Regions from separate parts of the Homo sapiens genome. Here all the other regions are linked to region 1. The links come from fine-mapping of genetic effects on gene expression. A gene starts in region 1. Each other region holds a variant in brackets. All regions are shown on one strand. Distances are between the middles of the regions. Region 1 holds the start of POLR3H (RNA polymerase III subunit H). Region 2 has its middle 17 kb from the start of TEF. Region 3 overlaps TEF (TEF transcription factor, PAR bZIP family member).

What was found.
Region 2: its variant is fine-mapped to the expression of POLR3H in whole blood (INTERVAL, PIP 0.92).
Region 3: its variant is fine-mapped to the expression of POLR3H in whole blood (TOPMed, PIP above 0.99).

Annotation. Positions count from the first base shown.
Region 1 is chr22:41,540,637-41,548,813 of GRCh38, reverse strand. It overlaps POLR3H (RNA polymerase III subunit H), which reads left to right and starts at 4,344. Exons shown (of 6, transcript NM_001018050.4): 1 at 4,344-4,823; 2 at 8,019-8,115. The coding sequence starts at 4,713. RefSeq lists silencers at 4,154-4,253, 4,444-4,573 and enhancers at 4,624-4,713, 4,724-4,823, 4,146-4,983.
Region 2 is chr22:41,360,426-41,368,602 of GRCh38, reverse strand. It overlaps a transcript of TEF not described here. Among named protein-coding and RNA genes, the nearest start is that of TEF, 17 kb to the left of the region's middle. RefSeq lists a silencer at 1,160-1,219 and enhancers at 4,038-4,598, 7,562-8,084, 8,085-8,177. The variant CACACAA/A (reference allele first, on the strand shown) is at 3,218.
Region 3 is chr22:41,386,769-41,394,945 of GRCh38, reverse strand. It overlaps TEF (TEF transcription factor, PAR bZIP family member), which reads right to left. Exons shown (of 4, transcript NM_003216.4): 2 at 7,278-7,595; 3 at 630-850. Among named protein-coding and RNA genes, the nearest start is that of TEF, 8.9 kb to the right of the region's middle. The variant CG/G (reference allele first, on the strand shown) is at 4,173.

The DNA.
Region 1 (8,177 bases):
GAATATTATTATTTATTTCAGAGACAGAGTCTTGCTCTGTCACCCAGGCTGGAGGGCAGTGGCATGATCAAAGCTCACTGAAGCCTCAAATTCCTGGGCTCAAGCAATCCTCCCAACTAAGCCTCCCAAGTAGCTAGGACTACAGGCAAGTGCCATCACACCCAGCTAATTATTTTATTTTTTTAGTAGAGACAGTATCTCACTTTGTTACCCAGGCTGGTCTCAAACTGACCTTAAGCAATCCTCCTGCCTCGGCCTCCCAAAATGTTGGGATTATAGGCATGAGCCACTGTGCCTGGCTCCAAATACTTTTAATTACCTGAGAGTACAAACTCGCTCTTTCTCTCAGTGCCCACCCTGCTGCCCCCCAACTCCAGCACCAAGTGCTCTGAGTTGAAGCTCGGTTTGAGGCCCAGTTTTTCTTCTGCATTGCATCTCCAACAACTGTACACAACAGTATGTTGAATGAATGCACGAATGAATGAGAACAGCATCACATGTGGGTTCTGTTTTGGGCTGTTCTCACGTTGCTATAAAGAAATACCTGGGCCTGGCGTGGTGGCTCACGCCTGTAATCCCAGCACTTTGGGAGGCCGAGGCAGGCAGATCACCTGAGGTCATGAGTTTGAGACAAGCCTGGTCAACATGGTGAAACCCCGTGTCTACTAAAACTACAAAAATTAGCCAGTCGTGGTGGCATGTGCCTATACTCTCAGCCACTCAGGAGGCTGAGGCAGGAGAATCGCTTGAACTCAGGAGGCGGAGGTTGCGGTGAGCTGAGATGGCACCTCTGCACTCCAACCTGGGTGACACGCACAAAAAAAAAAAGAAAGAAAAAAGAAATACCTGGCTGGTAGTGGTGGCTCATGCCTGTAATCCCAGCACTTTGGGAGGCCGAAGCTGAGGATCACTTGAGGTCAAGAGTTTCAGACCAGCCTGGCCAACATGGCAAAACCTTGTCTCTACTGAAAGTACCAAAATTATCCAGGTGTGGTGGTGCACGCCTGTAATCCCAGCTAGTCTGGAGGCTGAGGCAGAAGAATCGCTTGAAATGGGGAGGTGGAGGTTGCAGTGAGCCCTGATAGCGCCACTGCACTCCAGCCTGGGCAACAGAGCTGGTTAATTTATAAAGAAAATAGGCTGGCTGGGCACGGTGGCTCACGCCTGTAATCCCAGCACTTTGGGAGCCCAAGGCGGGTGGATCATGAGGTGAGGAGATCGAGGCCATCCTGACTAACACGGTGAAACCTCATCTCTACTAAAAATACAAAAAACTAGCTGGGCGTGGTAGCGGGTGCCTGTAGTCCTAGCTACTTGGGAGGCTGAGGCAGGAGAATGGCATGAACCCGGGAGGTGGAGCTTGCAGTGAGCCGAGATCATGCCACTGCACTCCAGCCTGGGCGACAGAGCAAGAATCCGTCTCAAAAAAAAAAAAATAGGTTTAGTTGGCTCATGGTTCCACAGGCTTTACAGCAAGCATGGTACTGGCATAGGCTCAGCTTCCAGGGATGCCTCGGGAAGCTTCCCATGATATCGGAAATCAAAGGAGGAGCAGGCACATCACATGGGGAAAAGAGGAGCAAGAGAGAGAGTGGGAGGAGGGAGGTGCTACACACTTTTTTTTTCAAGATGGAGTTTTGCTCTTGTTGCCGAAGCTGGAGTACAATAGCGCGATCTCTGCTCACCAGAACCGCCACCTCCTGGGTTCAAGCGATTCTTCTGCCTCAGCCTTCCTGAGTAGCTGGGATTACAGGCATGCGCCACCACGCCCGGCTAATTTTGTATTTAGTAGAGACGGGGTTTCTCCATGTTGGTCAGGCTGGTCTTGAACTCCTGACCTCAGGTGATCCGCCCACCTTGGCCTCCCAAAGTGCTGGGATTACAGGCATGAGCCACACGCCTGGCCACCACACACTTTTTTTTTTTGAGACGGAGTCTCACTTTGTCGCCAGGCTGGAGTGCAGTGGTGTGATCTCAGCTCACTGCAACCTCTGCCTCCCGGGTTCAAGTGATTCTTCTGCCTCAGCCTCCCAAGTAGCTGGGACCACAGGCGCGTGCCACCACGCCCGGCTACTTTTTTTTTTTTTTTTTTTTTTTTGTATTTTTAGTAGAGACAGAGTTTCACCGTGTTAGCCAGGATAGTCTCAATCTCCTGACCTTGTGATCCACCCACCTCGGCCTCCCAAAGTGATGGGATTACAGGTGTGAACCACCACGCCTGGCCCCGCCACATACTTTTAAATGACCAGATATTGGCTAGTCACGGTGGCTCATGCCTGTAATCTCAGCACTTTGAGAGGCCAAGATGGGGGGGATCACCTGAGGTCAGGAGTTCGAAACCAGCCTGGCCAACATGGTGAAATCTTATCTAAAAATACAAAAGTTAGCTAAGTGTGGTGGTGGGCACCTGTAATTCCAGCTATTTGGGAAGCTGAGGCAGGAGAATCGCTTGAACCCAGGAGGTGGAGGTTGCATTGAGCTGAGATCATGCCACTGCACTCCAGTCTGGGCGACAGAGCAAGATTCCGTCTCAAAAGAAAAAAAAAAGAAAAGGCCTGAACCGAAGCAATAGCAGTGGGAGTGGAATGAAGAGGAAACATTTGAGAGGAAGAATTAATGGTAATCCCTAAACACCTTTACTCAATGCTTCCTAGGAATGTGTTAGGGGATTGTGGGAATAAAGAGCTGAAGTAGCATTTGCTGCTGTCCTCAAGTACCTCAAATCCTATAGAAGCACACCTAAAAATAAAATCATAGATGCAGGGAAGGCCACATTTAGCATCACTGCAGCCAGTGTCACTGAGAGATCACTATGCTTGTGAAATCAGCAAATTAAGGCACCATACATTTCCAAGTGCCTCTGTCATTTACCCCAAGTATCTTTTGTAAGTACCTAAATTGTTATTTTGGTTAAAACACACTACAAGCCCGGGCGCGGTGGCTCACACCTGTAATCCCAGCACTTTGGAAGGCTGAGGTGGGCAGATCATGAGGTCAGGAGATCGAGACCATCCTGGCTAACACGGTGAAACCTCGTCTCTACTAAAAAAAAATACGAAAAATTAGCCAGGCGTGATGGTGGGCGCCTGTAGTCTCAGCTACTCGGGAGGCTAAGGCAGGAGAATGGCGTGAACCCGAGAGGCGGAGCTTGCAGTGAGCCAAGATCGCGCCACTGCACTCCAGCCTGGGCGACAGAGCGATCCTCCGTCTCAAACAAACAAACAAACAAAAAAACCCACTACAGTATACATCTACACCCCACCAATTTTTAGAGGCAGGGTAGTGAGGTTCAGACTGGGCCCACCTCTACCACTTGTCAACACGTGATCTTGGGTAAGCTACCAAATTCTCTTAGCCCATGCTATCACGTGAAGATGAATGAGACTGGAATGTCAGCGAGACAGAGCATGATGGGGCTATAGGAGGGGGGTATGGTCAGATCTTGCAGGGCCGTGTGAACTACCATAAAGGTTTTGGACTTTTCTTCTTTCTTTCTTCTTTTCTTTCTTCTTTCCCTTTTCTTTCTTCTTTCTTCTTCTTCTTCTCCTTCTTCTTTCTTCTTCTTCCGCCTCTCCTTCTTCTTCTTTTTCGTTTAGACATGAGGTGTCACTGTCACCCATGCTAGAGTGCAGCATGCAACCTCAAACTGCAACCTCAAACTCCTGGACTCAAGCGATGCTGCTGTCTCAGGCTTCTGAGTAGGTGGGACTACGGGTGTACACCACCACGCCCGGCTTGGATCTAGTATTCTAAGTTCAATGGGTTGTGTTTTTTGTTCCAATTTATTATAACTTTTCAATTGGAACATAATGTCTACAAATAAATGCAAAAATCTTGCCGAGTTCAATTAGTTTGGACAATTATATACGTCAATGTTATACCACCGAAAACAAAATACAGAACATTTCCATCATCTCAGAACAGTCCCAAGTGCCCCTTTCCTGCTAATTCTCCTTGTCTCCGGAACACTTAAGGGTGCTAAGCATGTTATGTTTGCGGTGGGTTTTTTTTTTAACTTAGATGTGGTAATATATGTTTGCGTTTCCAAAGGATCACTCTGGCTGCCGAGCAGAGGACAGCAATGCGGGTAAAGCACAGGCCAGGCGAGGGATAATCAGGCGGGATTGCACGGAGGTCGCCTAGCAACAGAAAGCGCTGTCGGGGGCGGGGGAACCGCTCTGCTCCTGTGAAAGGAGGAGGCCCCGCCCTCTCCTCGCCCTCTCTCTGCCCCACGCTGTGCGCGAGCACACAGGCAGCCCCGCCCCGCCTCGGCGGGGTGGGGGTGGACAGAGGTTTCTTATTGGTGAGTTTTCCGGAAGCGATGGATTCGGAATCTCGCCCGCAGTCGCGCAAGCGCGAGCGGCTGTGCGCGGTGCGTGGTGCGTGGTGCGTGATACGAGCGGCGGCACGTGGCGCGGGTGCGGGGCGTGGAGTGGCGTGGCGTGGAGTGGCGTGGCGTGGCGGGGTCTCGCGGCGCGGGCGCGCACCCGGAGCTGTGGACGGAGAGTGCCTCCCTCTGGCCTCAGTTTCCTCATGTTGTAGTAGCGGAGCATGGCCCGGACCGGGCCCCCGAGACCGCCCCGTGCAACCTCACCGCCAGCCTGGGGGCCTCAGCGACTGGGACGGGACCAAGGGGCTCGGGGATTCTCCCTGCCCCCGGCCCTGGTGCGTGACTGACCCTCCTGTTCCCAGAGCCCCCAGCGCAGGCCGGGATGTTCGTCCTGGTGGAAATGGTGGACACCGTCCGGATCCCCCCTTGGCAGTTTGAGAGGAAGCTCAACGACTCCATTGCCGAGGAGCTGAACAAGAAGTTGGCCAACAAGGTACTGGGCCCACGGCTCGCGGGCAGGCCTTGGCGTGGGAGAGCGAGCGCCGCCCACTGGCCGCAGGCCCGGCCTCGGTCATGCCAAGCCCTGGCCGTGGGCAAGCAGCTTAATGTCTCAGAACTTTTCTTCACCGTGAAAGGAGATATTGAAGGGGATCAAAAGAAAATGGGCTTGAAAAAGGGAGTTGTAACTGGAAGTGTTAGATTCCACAATTCTAAATTACTTTGCAATTGCAGGCAAGTTACTGACCCCTTCTGGGCCTCAGTTTCCATTTTTAAAATGGGGATAAAATATTGCTGTCCTTCCAGCCATGCATTGTTTTTGTTGTTGTTGTTGTTTGTTTTGTTTTGTTTTGTTTTTTGTTTTTGAGACGGAGTCTTGCTCTTTCGTCCAGGCTGGAGTGCAGTGGCGCGATCTCGGCTCACTGCAACCTCCGCCTCCCGGGTTCAAGCGATTCTCCTGCCCCAGCCTCCCGAGTAGCTGGGACAACTACAGGCGCGCGCCACCACCCCCAGCTAATTTTTGTATTTTTCGTAGAGACGGGGTTTCACCATTTTGGCCAGGATGGTCTCGATCTCTTGATCCCCCCGCCTCGGCCTCCCAAAGTGCTGGGATTACAGGTGTGCGCCATCGCCTCGGGTCAATGCATTGTTTTCGTGAAGATGGAGAGTTCTAGTAGTACAGAATTAACTGTCAGGAGGTTCATCCCTTCATTCCAGCAGCCAATATTTGTGCGCCTTCTCTGTGCTGTGCCTGTGTGCCTTAGTACCAGCTGAGAGGTCTTCCCACTGCCGTTTCTTTGACAGTCCTCCCTTTCCAGGTATTCTGTGTCACATCACTCTCTTTCCTTCTTAGACTTTTTCCTTTCCCTCTCCTTGAGAGCAGGGACCTTATCTGCCTTCTTCCCTGAAGTATCCCCTCATTTAGCCAAAGCCTGGCGGGAGTAGATGTCCCATAATTTTCTGTTTTGTGTTTGTGTGTGTGAGACAAGAGTGCCGCTCTTGTCGCCCAGGCTGGGGTGCAATGAAGCGATCTTGGCTCACTGCAACCTCCACCTCCCAGGTTCAAGCTATTCTTCTGCTTCAGCCTCCTGAGTAGCTGGGATTACAGGCACCTGCCACCACACCTGGCTAATTTTTGTACTTTTAGTAGAGACGGGGTTTCACCATGTTGGCCAGGCTGGTCTCAAACTTCTGACCTCAGGTGATCTGCCTGCCTCAGCCTCCCAAAGTGCTGGAATTACAGGTGTGAGCCACCGTGCCCGGCCATTTGTTGACTGAATGAATGAAACAGAGACAAGGCTCTGTGCTATAGTGTGGTGGGAAAGCAGATATGAATGAGAAGGGTCCACAGTTGAGTGTTTGGTGACAAATTGAGGTAAATGTTATGAGGGACAGGTGTTCACACACCTGTGGAACAAAGGAACGTCCCCTGGAATGAGGGGACCTGCAGCTTTGTTGAGGAGGTGGGGTTGAAGGTGAGATCTGATGGTGAAGTGGAGCCAACCAGAGGATTCCTTTCTAGGGTGGGAGGGGGCTGGGTGGAGAGAAGAGCCCTGAAGGCAGGAACTGGCATGTGCAAAGGCCCTGTGAAGAAGGAATACAGGCCGGGCGTGGGGGCTCACACCTGTAATCCCACCACTTTGGGAGGCTGAGGCGGGTGGATCACCCAAGGTCAGGAGTTTGAGACCAGCCTGTCCAACATGGTGAAGCCCCATGTCTACTAAAAATACAAAAAATAGCTGGGCATGGTGGCAGGCACCTGTAATCCCGGCTACTTGGGAGGCAGAGGGAGAAGAATCACTTGAACCCAGGAGGCAGAGGTTGCAGTGAGCTGAAATCGCACCACTGCCTTCCAGCCTGGGTGACAAGAGTGAAACTTCGCTTCAAAAAAAAAAGAAGAAGGGGTAAAATACCCACCATGGTGTGGAAGAGGCTGGTGTGGCTTGGGCAGAGGGGAGGGTGGGCTGGACAGGTGGGTGGGGGCCAGGCCACACAGCCCTGTAGGATGTCGGAGTTGAGGTATTGGTCTTTATCCGTGGAGCATCAGAAGGTGATGGGCTGAGAAGGAGCCAGAAAGAGGATGCTTAGCTGGCTTTACGCATGAGACAGGTCCCTTCAGAAGAGGTGAGGTTGATTTGGGGGTTGCTAGATAGTGAAGGGAACTCATGGAGTCTTTAAGTGGATGGCTTCTGGTTACTTTGTGAGGTTGAAGATGAGGGTCTGTTGGGGGATGGAGGTGTGGACCTTGAGAGAGAAGGTGTGGAAAGTCCAAGAAGGGAATATAGTCCCTTTGGGGTAGAGGTCCTGTTGGGACAAGTCTTCTAGTATTTGATTAGATGAATCGTTTGAGAGGGGGCCCACACAGAAATCCATGGTCTGACAAAGGGCACAGATCTTGTGGCATTATCTTGGTGAGGTCTGGCCACGACTCTGAGTTCTCTGAGCTTCTTGCTAATTCTTGGACAGTTCTTGCAAGGGTTCTAAGTGGGGGTGATGACACGGTGGCAGATAAGGAGACACTGAGTAGCCAGTCGTTTGAACCACAGTGGTGTGGGGTGAGGGCATGGGATTTCTGCACATTCTTGGGGCCTAGGTCTTGTGTCCCTCTGCCAGCTGCAGTCCCTGTGGCTGCGTCTGTGTGTCTGAGATGTTGTGAGCACAGTGGGGTTTAGCTGTGGCTGTGACGCTCACTAAACTGTGAGCTCTGGCATTGGCTTTGGGATGTCGGAGAGTGCACGTTTAGGCAGCATTCCTGTCACTGGTCCTCACTAGTAATAACAAAGATCCTTGATGATGATGGTTTCCAATACACGAGCCAGGTACAAGGCTAGGGGCTTCACATCTGTTATCTCTCTTTATTTTATAACTCTGCAGCCTGGTATTTCACATTTGCAGATGGGGAGACCGAGGCTCAGAGAGGTGAAGTGACCCTCTTGGCAGTCACACAGTGGGTGGTGGAGCTGGCCTTGGAACCTGGACCTGTTTTGTCACCCGAGGCCCTGCTCCTTCCAGAGCTCTGCATCCTTCTGAGGTTCCTTACCCTGGTCCCCTCCACAAACTCATTTTCACCTAAAAAAGGAGATAATCATGGCTTGCTTGTGGTTGTGAGGGGCTCAGATTGCCTGGGAGCTGGGCCTGTGGTCACTCTGTATCCATGTGTACTTGTGTGTCTGTGTTTGTATGCATGCAGGTCGTGTACAACGTGGGACTCTGCATTTGTCTGTTTGATATCACCAAACTGGAGGATGCCTATGTATTCCCTGGGGATGGCGCATCACACACCAAAGGTGGGTATCTTCTGTCCCTGGGGCATTGGGCTTCTTGGGGCTCAGTTTTCTGTAGCCAAAGG
Region 2 (8,177 bases), 180 kb after region 1:
CCAAGCAAACCCACACCCAGTTCCAGAGGGGTGAAGGGAGGCCGGGGGCTGTGGGATCTGTCTCCTGGCTCTGGTTTGGGAGTGGGCTGAGAGCGTCCTGTGGAAGGAAGGAGTCCTGCGGGGACAACCAGGGCCACCTGGTGATGCTAGGTAGCAGGTGCTGGCACAGCAGGATGAGAGGGAGGCCTGAGAAAGGTCCCCTGAGAGGACACCCCAGGTGCTCAAGTCAGACTCAGGCAGCAAAAGCCAGCTGGGCCCCTCTAAAGGCAAGGAGGAGTTGGAGCCCTGGGGACCTGGGGGTGACCTCTGACTTCTGGGAACAGAAGAGATTTGGAGAGAGATTTATCAGTATTCTCCGCCAAACTAATCTGGCCATGGGGTTCCCAGGCAGGACTTGGGAGACACCTGGTGCTGGCCACCAGGTCTGCCCCTCAGTCCACGCCCTCCTCTCTCCTCCCTCGCGCGTTTTGCCTGTGGTATCCTAGGAACGCAGGGCTTCGAGCCTTGTGGTCCTGTTACATAACAGTTTCCATCCCATCCATGAGTTCAGCCCTCCGGCAAGCGGGAGCTGCAGCAGGCGCACCAAGGAAAGCCTCTGCTTCAGACCCAGGCTCCTGCTGCCCAAATCCACAGTCCCTGCCGCTCCTCTGCCACCCCCAGCGTACAGGGGGAGGGAGCTTCAAAAGCAGTCAGCATCCAGCCAGATTCTTTCAATAGGACCCCCTGTCCTGTCCTGGTCCCACATGAGCACAGCACCTGTCAGTGGCCACACACTGGCCATGGCTTCCCCAAATCCAGCAGGCCTAGGAGAGAGTCCCAGAGCCGGTGTGACACATGCCTCCTCGAACCCCTCTCCGCACTCTGCACCCTGAGACCAAGGGCGCACCACTGCTGAGACCCTCCCTGGCTTGGAGATGCCTGTCCTGCCACTGTGCCTGTGGCTGCCCCCTCGCCCCCTCGAGTACCTGGGCAGCCAATCAATGCAGGTCACCTGTGCTCCTACCTGTTCTCTTCTCTGGCCAAGGCAGAGAGTGCTCCAGCAGGGACTTGAGGACCTCAGGCATGTCCATGGCAGGGGCCACTGAGAACCAGTCGCAGCTCACACAGCCCAGCAGGAGGTGCTTGCTCCAGGGAGTTCAGAGGCAGCTGGAGAGGCAGGGGCCGCCAGCCGCAGGCTAGGGAGGCAGGCGGGGTGGGAGCCTTGAGGCAGCCAATGGCCAGCACCAGTCCCAGCCCGCCCGTCCACCCCCGGCTCGGCCACCTGCCAGCTCCGGCTGCAGCCAGGCCTTCCCTTCCCGCTGCTTGGCAGGGCGGGCCTGGCCCTGCGCCAGCTGCAGCACGTGGAGCTGTCGCGCCAATCCTCTGACAGAGAGCCCAGCCTGTTATCTAACTTTGGAAAGGGAAGTTCTCCCCCAGGCTGGGAGCCATAACTGGGGCTGCCAGGTGAGAATGGTAAGCTCCACGCCCACAGCAAGCACGCATCAGCATGGAGGTGCCCTGGAGGCCCAGGCACGCAGTGGAAACCATCCCGGGCTGGGACCTGAGGCTCCAAGAGAAAAGGAGGATGACAGGCAAGGACAGCACCTCAGGCAGCCGAGCACAAGACACCCTGTGTTGGCAGATGCAGGGATGCGGTCGGACATCATGCCTTCACCTGTGCGCTTCTGAGCCTCAAGGGCTTGTGGCATGTTTTGATGCTGTGTTTATGCCATGCACACGTACCCTACAAGGCACGCCAGTGTACATATGGCATGCATAATTGGAGCTTTATACCATCTGCACAGCCTGAAGCCTGTTCCCCAAAAGGAAGTGATAAAACCTACCGCCTCAGGTTCTTTGGTCTTCAGGGGAGAGGGGAAAAGGGGCAGGTGCCAGGAGACCAGGCACCACTGAAAGGGGGGCAGCTCTGCCAGCCTGCTTCAGGCTTGTCCTGGATGAGGAATCCCTGCTTCCCAGTCATTGTGGGGACTTAAAGTGCCAATTGGCTATTTGCTGTAGTTCCCTCTCATACCCTCCCACCAGGACGCTGGCCCCTGTGGTCCTTGGGTTACTTGAATGGGTGAAGCAAAGGTTCTGGATGTCAACCTCTACGTCAGACCAACATCACGTCAAAGCCAGACTTGCCGGGGGATGCCAGGTTCTCGATTCTGCCGTACATTGCTGTGGGATCTTGAGCAAGCGTGGCAGCAACTCTGGGTCTCAGTTCCCGAACCACCGAATGCAGTGACCTCTAAGGTGCCGTTCAGCTCTAGTTCTATGGCTCTGAAGCTCCAGATGGGCTGCAATAAACATTTGGTTTTCTGCGTGGTAGCTGATTTTTTTTTTTTTTTTTGAAACAGGGTCTTTGTTGCTCAGGCTGAAGTGCAGTGGTGGGATCACGGCTCACTGCCTCATCCTTACAAGTAGCTGGGACCATAGGTGCATGCCGCCACACTGGACTTTTTTTTTATAAAGACACTGTTGCCCAAGCTGGTCTCAAGTCCTGTGTTCAAGCCATCCCCCGGTCTTGGCCTCCCCAAAGTCTTGGGATTATGGGTGTGAACACTGCCCCTGGCCTGTAGCTGGTTTCTAAGCAGTGCTTTGTTGTTTTCCAAAATTCCATTTTGTACAGAATCAAAAATACTCCAAGAGCCCCTTCTGGCTTCTTCCTTTCCCAATGACCTCAGCTTATACTCTTAATTACCCTCCTTCCCTCCCTAATGACCCTCCCCAAATTATGCTCTTTCCCAAATTAATTAAAAATTAATTTTAACTTTTGAATACAAAAAACAATACGTGGCTCACAGCTCAAAACCTCCGATAAGGTTTGTTTATTTATTTGTTTATTTAGAGACATAGTTTCATTCTGTTGCCCGGGCTGCAGTACAGTAGCAGGATCTCAGCTCACTGCAACCTCTGCCTACCAGGCTCCTGCCTCAGCCTCCTAAGTAGCTGGAATTACAGGCACACACCATTACGCCCAGCTGATTTTTGTATTATTAGTAGAGGCAGGGTTTCGCATCATTGGCCAGGCTGGTCTCAAACTCCTGACCTCAGGTGATCCGCCCTCCTCACCCTCCCAAAGTGCTGGGATTACAGGTGTGAGGCACTGTGCCCAGCCTCAAGGAAGTATACTTTAGAAATGTCCTTTCTATCCCTGTCCCTCTTTCCCATTCCCCAATGTTTCTTTTTGCAAAAGTAAACATATATATGTATATATTTATGACACACACACACA[CACACAA/A]ACATTTAATTTTGCAGAGTTGTATGTTTTGACCAGCAGAGAGTGTTTTGTAACTACAAAGGAGAGACCCCCTTACTGCTGTTTCCAGCCAGAACCCTGGCCAGTGCCCTTTGCTCTGCAACCCCGGGGGTGAGGGTAAGGGTGAGAGTGAGCCTGGTGCGCAGGCCCCCAGCTGACCTGTGATTTGCAGTCAGGGGTGGACTCAGGCTGGGCTGCCGCATTCACCATTCCTCGGTCCAAGAATTCTCTTGAGTGCAAGACCGCTTATCACAAAGGTGGAGTGGGCAGGTGTCCATCGGTATGATCTCAAAAGGAACAGGAAGCACCCTGTGTTTCTCAAACATACCCACCTGCTGCAAGACGTTTTTCTCTTGGAAATTCATTCCGGTGAGCTCTCTGCAGGCTCCTTTTTTTTTTTTTTTTTTTTTTTTTTGAGGCGGAGTTTTGCTCTTGTTGCCCAGGCTAGAGCACAATGGCGTGATCTCGGTTCACCGCAACCTCTGCCTCCCAGGTTCAAGCAATTCTCCTGCCTCAGCCTCCCGAGTAGCTGGGATTACAGGCATGCACCACTGTGCCCAGCTAATTTTGTATTTTTAATAGGGACGGGGTTTCTCCGTGTTGGTCAGGCTGGTCTCAAACTCCTGACTTCAGGTGATCCACCTGCCTCAGCCTCCGAAAGTACTGGGATTACAGGTGTGAGCCACCGTGCCTGGCCTCTGCAGGTTCATTTTAATGTGCGAATGTCCTAAGCCTCTGAGACTATGAATGAGTGCTTATCACATACCTGGCACCAGCCTAAACCCTGTGAGGAATTCAAAGTTAACATACCCAGCCAGGCAACTCCCTATCCTTAGAGAACTTTCACACCACCAGGAGTCCATGTTGGCAGCCCCCAGTCGGCACTCAGTGTCCAGCTGGCAGCATCCCCTAGGTCAGACAGGGACCACACCAGTGGGTTGCTGGGCCAGGCAGCCAGGGAGGCCAGAGGTAGTGGGAAGGGAAGGCCGTATACATACCTAGAGACCTTCGGACGGGGGCCGTATGCTGGGAGTGCTGGAATTGTCTGCACTTCTTGGACTTCGTAGCTCAGGGATCTGATGTCCACTGCAGATGGTCTGAGGTCTGTTGGTGTCCTTATCAATGCCACTGAGCCCATTCCTATGCCCTGCGCTTGAGTTTTCATCAACTGTATTTACCCCCAGTTCACTAGGAACATGGTTTTTTTTTTTTTTTTTTTTTTTTTGAGATGGAGTCTCGCTTTGTCACCCAGGCTGGATGGAGTGCAGTGGCGTGATCTTGGCTCACTGCAAGCTCCGCCTCCCAGGTTCACGCCATTCTCCTGCCTCAGCCTCCCGAGTAGCTGGGACTACAGGTGCCCGCCACCAGGCCCGGCTAATTTTTTGTATTTTTAGTAGAGACGGGGTCTTCACTATGTTAACCAGGATGGTCTCAATCTCCTGACCTCATGATCCACCCGCCTCGGCCTCCCGGAGTGCTGGGATTACAGGCGTGAGCCACCGTGCCCAGCCGGAACATGGTGTTCTTTGTGCCTACAGCTATGTCTCCTTGCAGGGGAGCTGTAATCCCAGACAGAAGTCTGGAGTCAGAGTCACAGTGGCTCCCTAAGAACATCTAACGCCTTGTGCAGCTGAGAGGCCGGGCTGAGGGAGAACTTTATCAAGAATACGTTCTCAGCCAGGCACGGTGGCTCACTCCTGTAATCCCAGCACTTTGGGAGGCCAAGGTGGGTGGGTCACCTGAGGTCAGGAATTCTTGACCAGCCTGGCCAACATGGTGAAACCCTGTCTCTACCAAAAACACAAAAATTAGCTTAGTATGGTGGCATGCACCTGTAATCCCAGCTATTTGGGAGGCTGAGGCAGGAGAATGGCGTGAACCCGGGAGGCAGAGCTTGCAGCGAGCTGAGATCACGCCACTGCACTCTAGCCTGGGCACAAGAGCAAGACTCCGTCTCAAAAAAAAAAAAACAAAAAACAAAACAAAACAACAAAACACGTTCCCTGTGCCTCGTCCTCTCCTTGAGCAGCAGCGCATATATATTTACTTCTAGGCCCGAAACGAAGGTGCCAGAAGAGGCTGGCATAATCTTACTGATCATCAATTGAGCAGGTCCAGTGGCTCCAGCTGCGTTTTTCTGAGGACTGGGGGTTGTTTCCCAGGGAGGTTGCAAAGGGCTCCCAGGTGTGGGGATAGACGGATGCAATTATTTGCAGAACTGTCAAGGGCTTTCTCTAGAGGTGTAGAGCTGAGGCAGCTGGTGCGCTGTGTTGGTCGTGCTCACTGAGGCCCCTACTCACAGGGCTGAAGACCAGACACAGGGCTGCGTTCAGTAACTGGAAGCTGCTTAAGCGAGCTCTGACTCATCAATAGGATGAATATCAGCTACTGACCATAAATATCCAGGTGACACGGGTACATGGAACTGCACATGTGAAATAAAAATTAAGAGAGAAAGATGCAGAACAGTAAGTGACATGGATTACAATGATGAATCTTTTTGAAGCTTCAATTCCAGTTTCACCTCCTCCAGGAAGTCCTCCCTGGCTGCTGAGCCTGGATGAGGTACCTCCCCTGGTTCCCTGAGTGTCTCCCCCCGTCACCCCCATCACATCATTCTACAATCTTCTATTACGTCGGTCTCCTTTAGCACTGACTGAACTGAAGGGGAAGCAGTTTCTTAAGTAATCCTGTATCCCTGGATCTGGGATAGAGTGGGTGCTCAGTTGATGTTTACCAATCTGAGCCACGTGAGGACCAGAAGAGAATTTAAGGGAATTGATGAGAATGTACAAGTTTATTCCACTAGGTTGATTGAAGTCCTGCTTGTATTTTTTTTTTTTTTTTTGAGACAGAATCTCACTCTGTCACCCAGGCTGGAGTGCAATGGCATGGTCTCAGCTCACTGCAACCTCTGCCTCCCGGGTTCAAGTGGTTCTTGCACCTCAGCCTCCCAAGTAGCTGGGACTACAGGCGTGTGCCACCACACCCGGCTAATTTTTGTATTTTTAGTAGAGACGGGGGTTTCACTATGTTGGCCAAGCTGGTCTCGAACTCCTGACCTCGTGATCCACCCTCCTCTGCCTCCCAAAGTGCTGGGATTACAGGAGTGAGCCACTGAGCCCGGCCTCTGCTTGTCTTACTCTTTAATTGTTCCTTTATTATTTATTTTTATTTTTTTGAGACAGGATCTTGCTCTGTCTCCCAGGCTGGAGTGCGGTGGTGTGATCATGACTCACTGCAGCCTCAACCTCCTGGGCTCAAGCCAACCTTCCACCTCAGCCTCCCAAGTAGCTAGGACCACAGGTGTGGACCACCATACCCAGCTAATTTTACTTTTTTTTTTTTTTTTTGTAGAGATACGGCTTTACTGTTGCTCAGGCTAGTCTCAAGCTCCTGGCCTCAAGTGATCCTCCTGCCTTGATCTCCCAAGGCAGGATTACAGGAGTAATCCTGTAAGGTCTTGATGCAGGCACGCGATCTCTCCAGCCTAAGCATGAGTCTGTATTTTTCTTCCGGGAACTCTGCCTTGCCACGCCACTTCGGTTTTTCACAGTGCATCCAGAGGTGCTGTGAATTCCAGAATGTCAGGGCGGAAGGGACGTTTGCCGATACCCAGTTCCCAGTGGTTCTCGATCTTTTTTCTGCCTCCTTCCTGAGGGTCCTTGGAACCTTCACTGAAACTCTCTGGGCTATAAATGTGGACAGTGAACTTCCACGGTTGCTGTGAGGGACGGATGTACTAGCTGCACAGTACCTGCTGCAACCAAGATGCTCAATAAAGCTGGCTGCTTTTGTTCCTCGTGCCATCATTTATCAAGCATCTGAGCGTCTACTGCACACCTGGCCCAAATGACTCCGTCTTCAGGCAATTCTCTGGTCCTGAACCGCTGTCCTGGTCCACTCCACACTGCAGTTTAAAGCTGTCTGGGAAGCCGGGCATGGTGGTGGCTCATGCCTGTAATCCCAGCACTTTGGGAGGCCAAGGCGGCGGGTGGATCACTTGAGGTCAGGAGTTCGAGACCAGCCTGGCCAACATGGTGAAACCCTGGCTCTACCAAAAATACAAAAATTAGCCAGGCATGGTGGTGGGTGCCTGTAGTCCCAGCTACTGAAGAGGCTGACGCAGGAGAATCAGTTTAGCCTGGGAGGTGAAGGTTTCAGTGAACCGAGATCGTGCCACTGCACTCCAGCCTGGGTGACAGAGTGAGACTCTGTCTCAAAAAAAAAAAGGAGAAAAAGAAAAAAAAGCTGTCTGGTGAGAGCTTGCTCTTGGACATGAGCAGTCCCTCCCTATGGGACCCCCTCTATCACCTGCAGCCATGCACAATCCAAAAGATTTGACAAAGTACCTCCCACCCCAGCAGACTGAGTCCCTGAGAACTCCAGATCTAATATATCAGCTCCTTTTATTTATTTATTTTTGAGACAGAGTCTCGCTCTGTCACTCAGGCTGGAGTGCAGTGGACCGATCTCAGCTCACTGCAACCTCCGCCTCCCGAGTTCAAGCGATTCTCCTGCCTCAACCTCCCAAGTAGCTGGGATTACAGGCATGTGCCACCATGCCCAGTTAATTTTTGTATTTTTAGTAGAGACGGGTTTTCACCATGTTGGCCAGGCTGGTCTCAAACTCCTGACTTCAGCTGATCCGCCCACCTCGGCCTCCCAAAGTGCTGGGATTACAGGTGTGAGCCACTGTGCCCAGCCCCCCCGCCAGCTCCTTTTAAAGATGAGGAAACTGGACCCATGTGACTTCAGTCTCCCTTGGGTTCACAGAAGCCAGGGTTGCAGTCGGGATCACACTGGGCATCATAGGCGAGGCATGGTCCCTGCCTTCCTGCAAGAGCCACCTCCAGAAAGGGCAGAGGTGGGTCCTGGAACCCAGCTGGGCACACACTGCAGCGTAAATGTAGGGAAGTGTGGGCACCGCTGGCAG
Region 3 (8,177 bases), 150 kb after region 1:
GATCATCACATCATTATTAAAGTCTCACAAACCTCCCCGGGAGGGAGGTTCAGTTGCTCCCGTTTTACAGATGAGGAACTTGAGGCACAGCTAGGCCACAAGTGGCAACATGGAGTTTGGACCCAGGTGTGCCTGACTCCAAAGATTTGGATGAAAAATCCTTGCTGTAAGTTTTTCATAGGAAAGGATGGAAAACTGCAAAATTCTCTCTTCCCACCAGTTCCTAACAGCACCACCAGCTTGAAAGCTGCTTGCTCATCCCTGGGGATGGCAACATACAAGAAACCCTTTGTCCTTCAAAGCAAGGACTTTTTCAACCCCAGTTCCTGTGGCCTAGTGAGCTCTTGCCCAGTGGCTGGGCTACAGCCAGGGAGGCAGGAACATCAACACAGCCGATGGCCCGGGGAAGGAGAGAAACTACAGGGAGTCACACTGGGGCCAAATGCCACATGACTCCCTTTCTTTCTACCAAACTGCTGAAGGATATGGCTTTAAGCACTAAACTCATGTCTTTCCAAATGGTGTCACAAGGAGGGAAGGCTCTCCAGATAAAATCAAATGCGAGGAGCCATATCCCCTAGGCCCTTGAACCAACGCTGCATCTTTATTTATAAGGAATACCAGGTTACCTTCTGCTCGTCGGGGACAAAGACCTTCTTGGCCTTTTTGATCATAGGCTGGGGCTTCAGGTCCTCCTCAGCAAACTTGTGCTTCCGAGGGTTGAAGAGCTCCCCGCCTGGCACACTGGAGAGCACCAGGTCGGCGGGGTCCGGATTGAAGTTCACATCCACTTCCACACAATTGGGGTCGATGGGACTGGGAGTCTCCCTCTCCTTCTCCAGGGAAGATTCTAAAAGACACAGAGACAGGTGGTCCCGAAGCAGCCCACTGGACAGAGAAGACCCACGCCACACACCCAGACACCTGGTTGAACCTCAAGGCTGCATAAGCCACTGCCGCCTGGGGAGAAGAAAACCCCAACAGTACCAGCCCCTAAGCCAGACTGGCACACGGTTCAATTCCACAACACAAACATTCAAAGAATTCTTTCCTTCAGGAACAGAATGCTCAAAAGGAAACAGAAGCCCTAGAAAAAGACAGGGTTTTCCAATTGTTTCCACCCCCTCCAGAAATGTTAAGCAAAACATTAATTTTTTTTTTTTTTTTTTTTTGAGATGGGAGTCTTGCTCTGTCGCCCAGGCTGGAGTGCAGTGGCGCAATCTCGGCTCATTGCAAGCTCCGCCTCCCGGGTTCATGCCACTCTCCTGCCTCAGCCTCCTGAGTAGCTGGGACTACAGGCGCCTGCCACCGCAGGTGCCCGCCACCAAGCCTGGCTAATTTTTTTGTATTTTTAGTAGAGATGAGGTTTTACTGTGTTAGCCAGGATGGTCTTGATCTCCTGACCTTGTGATCCGCCTGCCTTGGCCTCCCAAAGTGCTGGGATTACAGGCATGAGCCACTGCGCCCAGCCTAAAACATTAAATTTTTATATTCCCTTAACTTCCTGTGATTTCAAGATCTCCAGTAATGAGAAACAGCTGTGTCTCTCCAGGCAGACACAGACTGAAGAATGGAAATGGGTTCCAATTTTTTTTTTTTTTTTTTGAGACAGGGTCTTGCTCTGTCACCTAGGCTGGAGTATAGTGGTATGATCATGGCTCACTGCACCCTCGACCTTCTGGGCTGGAGTGATCCTCTTGCCTCAGCCTCCTGAGTAGCTGGGACCGCGGATGCACACCAACACGCCTGGCTAATTTTTTTTTATTTTTTAGAGACAGGGTTTCATTATGTTGCCAGGGCTGGTCTCAAACTCCTAGGCTCAAGTGATCTTCCTGCTTCAGCCTCTGAAAGTGCTGGGATTACAGGTGTGAGCCACTGCACCTGGCCAGGCTCCACTTTTCTTTTTCTTTTGAGACTGAGTCTTGCTCTGTCACTCAGGGTAGAGTGCACTGGTGCAATCTTGGCTCACTGCAGCCTCCACTTCCCGGGTTCAACCGATTCCCGACTCAGCCTCCCGAGTAGTGGAGACAACAGGCATAAGCCACCACGCCTGGCTAGTTTTTGTATTTTTAGTAGAGACAGGGTTTCACCATGTTGGCCAGGCTGGTCTTGAACTGCTGAGCTCAAGTGATCCACCCGCCTCGGCCTCCCAAAATGCTGGGATTACAGGTGTGAGCCACCACGTCCAGCCCGGGTTCCACTTTTGAGTCCCTGAGACATGTCTGTTACTGTGCCATCTAGTCACTTAGTCTTTTTTTTTTTTTTTTTTTTTTTTGAAGAGTCTCACTCTGTTTCCCAGGGTGGAGTGTAGTGGCGTGATCTCAGCTCACTGCAACCTTGACCTCCTGGGTTCAAGCTATTCTCCTGCCTCAGCCTCCCAAGTAGCTGGGACTACTGGCGCCCACTACCATGCTCGGCTAATTTTTGTATTTTTAGTAGAGACGGGGTTTCACTATGTTGGCCAGGATGGTCTCAATCTCCTGACTTGGTGATCCACCTGCCTCGGCCTCCCAAAGTGCTGGGATTACAGGTGTGAGCCACTGCGCCCGGCCCCATTTAGTCTTATGACAACTAGTTTACAGATGAAGAAACTAACGCTCAGAGAAATAAAATGGTTTTCCCAGAGTCACACAGATGATAAGCAATTGAACTAAAATTTGAAACTTAGTCTGGCTGGCTGATTCCTTGTTCTTCCCTGCCCCACCTGGCTGCCATTTAATAGTGGACACCGATTGGGTTAAAACCACCTCTAGAATTCTAAGGTTGTGTGTTATTAGAGATAAGAGTTATATTAAGAAAAACTATACCTTTGGCCAGCTCATTCAATGCTACTGATAGGAGTATACAAAATAATTATTCAGTCAACAGATACTTATTGAATACCTGTTATATGCCAGGTTCTGTCCTGGCAAAGACAAAACAGTTAACAAACAGCTAAAAATCCCTGCCTGCATGAAATGTTATTCTAGTGGGGAAAGCTGCATTACACAAGATAAATACAAACGATATATAAAAATGTCAGATGGGCCAGGCGTGGTGGTGCACACCTGTAATCTCAGCACTCTGGGAGGCCGAGGCGTGTGGATCACGAGGTCAAGAGATCGAGACCATCCTGGCCAACATGGTGAAACCCCGTCTCTACTAAAAATACGAAAATTAGCTGGGCGTGATGGCATGCGCCTGTAGTCCCAGCTACTCAGGAGACTGAGGCAGGAGAATTGCTTAAACCCAGTAGGCAGAGATTGCAGTGAGCCAAGATGGTGCCACTGCACTCCAGCCTGGCGACAGAGTGAGACTCCCTCTCAAAAAAAAAAAAAAAAGTCAGATGCCGGCCTGGTGTGGTGGCTCATGCCTGTAATCCCGGCACTTTGAGAGGCTGAGGTGGGTGGATCACCTGAGGTCAGGAGTTCGAGACCAGCCTGACCAATACGATGAAACCCCGTCTCTACTAAAAATACAAAAAGTAGCCGGCCGTGCCTGTTATCCCAGCTACTCAGGGGGCTGAGGCAGGAGACTCGCTTGAACCCGGGAGGCAGAGGTCGCAGCGAGCTGAGATCACACCACTGCACTCCAGCCTGGGTGACAGAATAAGACTGTCTTAAAAAAAAAAAAAAGAAAAGAAGATCCTGCAATGCATAGGTCAGTCACGCCTCCAACCCCAACAAAAAATCATCTGGTCTAAATGTCAATGGTGCTGCTGATTCTGACTTTTATCCTGAGATAGAACACCTGGAGGGCTCTGGGCAGAGGTGTGGCATGATCAGACTTAGGCTTTAATTGGATTATGCACATAAATTCATTGTATCCTATTAGACAGGGGTTAATTACAGAGACATCTGAGTGTCAGAGGAGTGAATGACCAGGGACCCACATGGTAACTGTAGGCAGTTTCGGGCATGCCAAACCTAGTACCTGCAAGACAAGCAGCTCAGGTACCTACCACATGAGAATGTTGTTCAAAGTGACGCCATGCCTGGGTGCCCTTCAGCAACAACCAAGTGGCAAGATGTGGTTAAGTTTCAGGGACAGGATAAGAGAAAGCCGCAGGAAACAAAAGGGGAAAATTTGCAAAGAGGCCTGGGGACAAGATTTTGAGGAATTCTCATTTCCCCATGGATACCTCTATGAACAAATTCTAGAAAATGACAATGAGGGCTGAGCGCAGTGGCTCA[CG/G]CCTGTAATCCCAGCACTTTCCGAGGCAGGTGGATCACCTGAGGTGAGGAGTTCAAGACCAGCCTGGCCAACACGGTGAAACCCTGTCTCTACTGAAAATACAAAAATTAGCCAGGTGTGGTGGTGGGCGCCTGTATTCCCAGCTACTCAGGAGGCTGAGGCAGGAGAACTTGAACCTGCGAGGCGGAGGTTGCGGGAGCCGAGATCGCACCACTGCACTCCAGTCTGGGTGACAGAGTGAGACTCCATCTCAAAAAAAAAAAAAAAAAAAAAAAAAGATGACAATGAGACCTTAAAATGACTTTGCTGGAAGAAGAGGGAAAGGGAATAGATCTGTTGGTAACTTGCCTGAAATATAATTCTCTCATAGGTCCACCATTACAAAAGATGTCAAAATCAAAGGCTGACAATGGAACTCCAATGCCCTGCTGGTGTGAGTACAAATGGATATAACAACTTTGTACGCTATTTGGCAGGGTCTACACAAACTGAACATATGCATGTCCAATGACCTAGCCATTCTCTTCCTAAGCAAATGCCCAAAAGAAACGCATATATATATTTACCAAAAAACATGTAGATGGGCCAGGCACAGTGGCTCACACTTGTAATCCCAGAACTTTGGAAGGTGAGGCAGGTGGATCACCTGAGGTCAGGAGTTTGAGACCAACCTGGCCAACATGGCAAAACCCCATCTCTACAAAAATAAGCCAGGAGTGGTGGCGCACACCTGTAATACCAGCTACCTGGGAGGCTGAGGCAGGAGAATCGCTTAAACCCAGGAGGCGGAGGTTGCAGTGAGCTGAGACCCCGCCACTGCACTCCAGCCTGGGCGACAAAAGCAAGACTCCGTCTCAAAAAAAAAAAAAGACATGCACATGAATGTTCATGGCAGCATTATTCATAACCAAAATCAGAATGTCCTTCAACGGTTAAATGGATAAGCTGTGGTACGTTAGTACAATTGACTACTATTCAGCAATGAAACTTAACAAAGCGGCTGGGTGTAGTGGCTCATGCCTGTAATTTCAACCAACACTTCGGGAGGCCCAGGTGGGAGGACTGTTTGAGGCCATGAATTTGAAACCAGCCAGGGCAACACAGTGATACCCTGACTCTACAGAAAAAAAAAAAAAACTTTTATTTATTTATTTTGAGATGGAGTCTTGCTCTGTCACCAGGCTGGAGTGCAGTGGCGCCATCTCGGCTCACTGCAACCTCCGCCTCCCGGGTTCAAGCGATTTTCCTGCCTCAGCCTCCAAGTAGCTGGGATTACAGACACGCACCACCATGCCCAGCTAATTTTTGTATTTTTAGTAGAGTCGAGGTTTCACCATGTTGGCCAGGATGGTCTCGATCTTTTTTTTTCTTTGAGATGGAGTCTTGCTCTGTCGCCCAGGCTGGAGTGCAGTGGTGCAATCTCGGTTCACTGCAAGCTCTGCCTCCTGGGTTCACGCCATTCTCCTGCCTCAGCCTCCCGAGTAGTTGGCACTATAGGCACCCGCCACCACACCCGGCTAATTTTTTGTACTTTTTAGTAGAGATGGGGTTTCACCGTGTTAACCAGGATGGTCTCAATCTCCTGACCTCGTGATCCACCCACCTCGGCCTCCCAAAGTGCTGGGATTACAGACGTGAGCCACTGCGCCCGGCCTGTAAAATACCATTTATGAGACAACTTTGGAAATCTGAATGTTGATGGATTTATTGTCAACTTTAGATGTAAAACTAGTATTTTCGTTATGTTTTTTTTAAAAGAACCCTTATATTTTAGATACATATTGAAATACTTATAATTTGATTGAAAATAACTGCTTCTGAGTTGAGAATTGTTGAAGCTGGGTGACGGTTACATAGAGGTTCATTATAGTCGTCTCTTACTTTTGTATTTTGTTTGAAAAAATTTCCACAATAAAAAGAAAAAAAAATAGAGTATGAGAACTTATTGGGTGTGGATTCCTGGGGTGACATACCGACTGGCAGGAGCTATCAGCCTGTATGCCTCAGAGACTGCAGAAAGCTTTGCAGAACCCCTGCAACAGGAGCCATGTCTCCTTTGGTAGGTTCGTGTCCAAGGAGCATGAAAACAAACCCCCAGAGATAAAATGTAAAAGGAGGAGGAATAAGGACAGACTCTGAAGATGATGTTTGTCCTGGCCAGGTGGTGGGAATGCTTTCTTTTTTTTTTTTTTTTGAGATGGCGTCTCACTCTGTTGCCCAGGCTAGTAGGTAATGGAGGTAGCACTTGAATAGTGCTTATGCCCTGGCACAAAGAAAGCATTCCCCACTTTGGGAGGCCAACGTAGGTCGATCACCTGAGGTCAGGAGTTCAAGACCAGCCTGACAAATATGGCAAAACCCCATCTCTACTAAAAATAAAAATCGCTTCAATCCGGGAGATGGAGGTTGCAGTGAGCCAAGACCAGCCTGACAAATATGGCAAAACCCCGTCTCTACTAAAAATACAAAAATTAAGGCTGTGCGTGGTAGCTTACGCCTGTAATCCCAGCACTTTGGGAGGCTGAGGCGGGCAGATCACCAGAGGTTAGGAGTTCGAGACCAGCCTGGCCAACATGATGAAACTCTGTCTCTACTAAAAAATAAAAAAATTAGCCAGGCGTGGTGGCTGGTGCCTGTAATCCCAGCTACTCAGGAGGCTGAGGCAGAGAATTGATTGAACCCAGGAGGTGGAGGTGGCAGTGAGCCGAGATTGCTCCACTGCACTCCAGCCTGGGCAACAGAGCGAGACTCCTTCTCAAAAAAAAAAAAAAAAAAAAAAAAAAAAAAAAGAGCAGCATTGAGGAAATGCAGAATGGGATTTCTATCCTGTAATGCCGTGGCCTGGAAGGTCCTGTCCTGACTGTTTGCAGCACAGCAACCAACAGAAGGGTTCCAACTGCCAGTGACATGACCACTATTTTTATCTCCAGCCTCGGGGAACTGTGTGGAAGGGTGGGGAGTGAAGAGTTTCTCCACACTGCAGCCCCACCAGGACCTCCCCTCAGAGAAGGGACTCACTGGGTACATGGACACAAGCAGCCCTCAGTGGGAAATGGACTTCCCTGGATGGGACAGGTGGCCCTCCTCGATGGCCTTTCACCAACCTGTGCTGGACACGGTTTCAGAGGGCTGAAAGATGGCAGTGGAGGAGGATGGTGGGGATGCTGTGGAAGAGCTGGCAGACTCCTTCCCTTCTAGCTCTGCTACAGGCAGCAGCAGGTTGTGGGCCAGGTGGGTGGGGCTGGCGGGGATGCCATTCTCCAGCAGGAACTCATCCAGGTCCATGTACTCCAGGTGGAAAGATTCGCCATCATATGGGATGGTCTTGTCCCAGATGGGTGGCATGAGGGAGGCTGAGACAGCCATGGTGCTGGCGGCTGCGGCCTCGTCCTCCTCCAGCTTTTCCTTCCCCTTTTCCTTATCTGCAGAAACAAAATCTGCGATGAAATACCACACAGGAGAGTAACTCAATCCCAGGAAGTGGGCAGTGAGCCTCACAGGCCTGGCCCATCTTTCTCAGAGCCCCGATTCCAACCCATGCATTTCAAGAACCTACTCTATTCTCCAGTTCGAATCTCGCACTTGAACCAGGCCGGCTGTTTTCCTTTAGACACGGCATCCCATCCTCATCCATGCCTGGCCTTCCCAGAAGGCTTACCACATACTCTGAGACCTTAAGCGGTCATAGGGTTAATTCATTATTTAATTTTATTTTAGTTTTTATTATTTTGAGACAGTATTTTGCTCGTCGCCCAGGCTGGAGTGCAGTGACCCAATTTCGGCTCGCTGCAACCTCCACCTCCTGGGTTCAAGCGATTCTTGTGCCTCAGACTCCCGAGTAGCTGGGATTACAGGTACGCACCACCATGCCCAGCTATTTTTTGTATTTTTAGTAGAGATGGGGTTTTACTATGTTGGCCAGGCTGGTCTCGAACTCCTGAGCTCAGGTGATCCACCCACCAAAGTGCTGGGATTACAGGCATGAGCCACTATGCCTGGCCTGT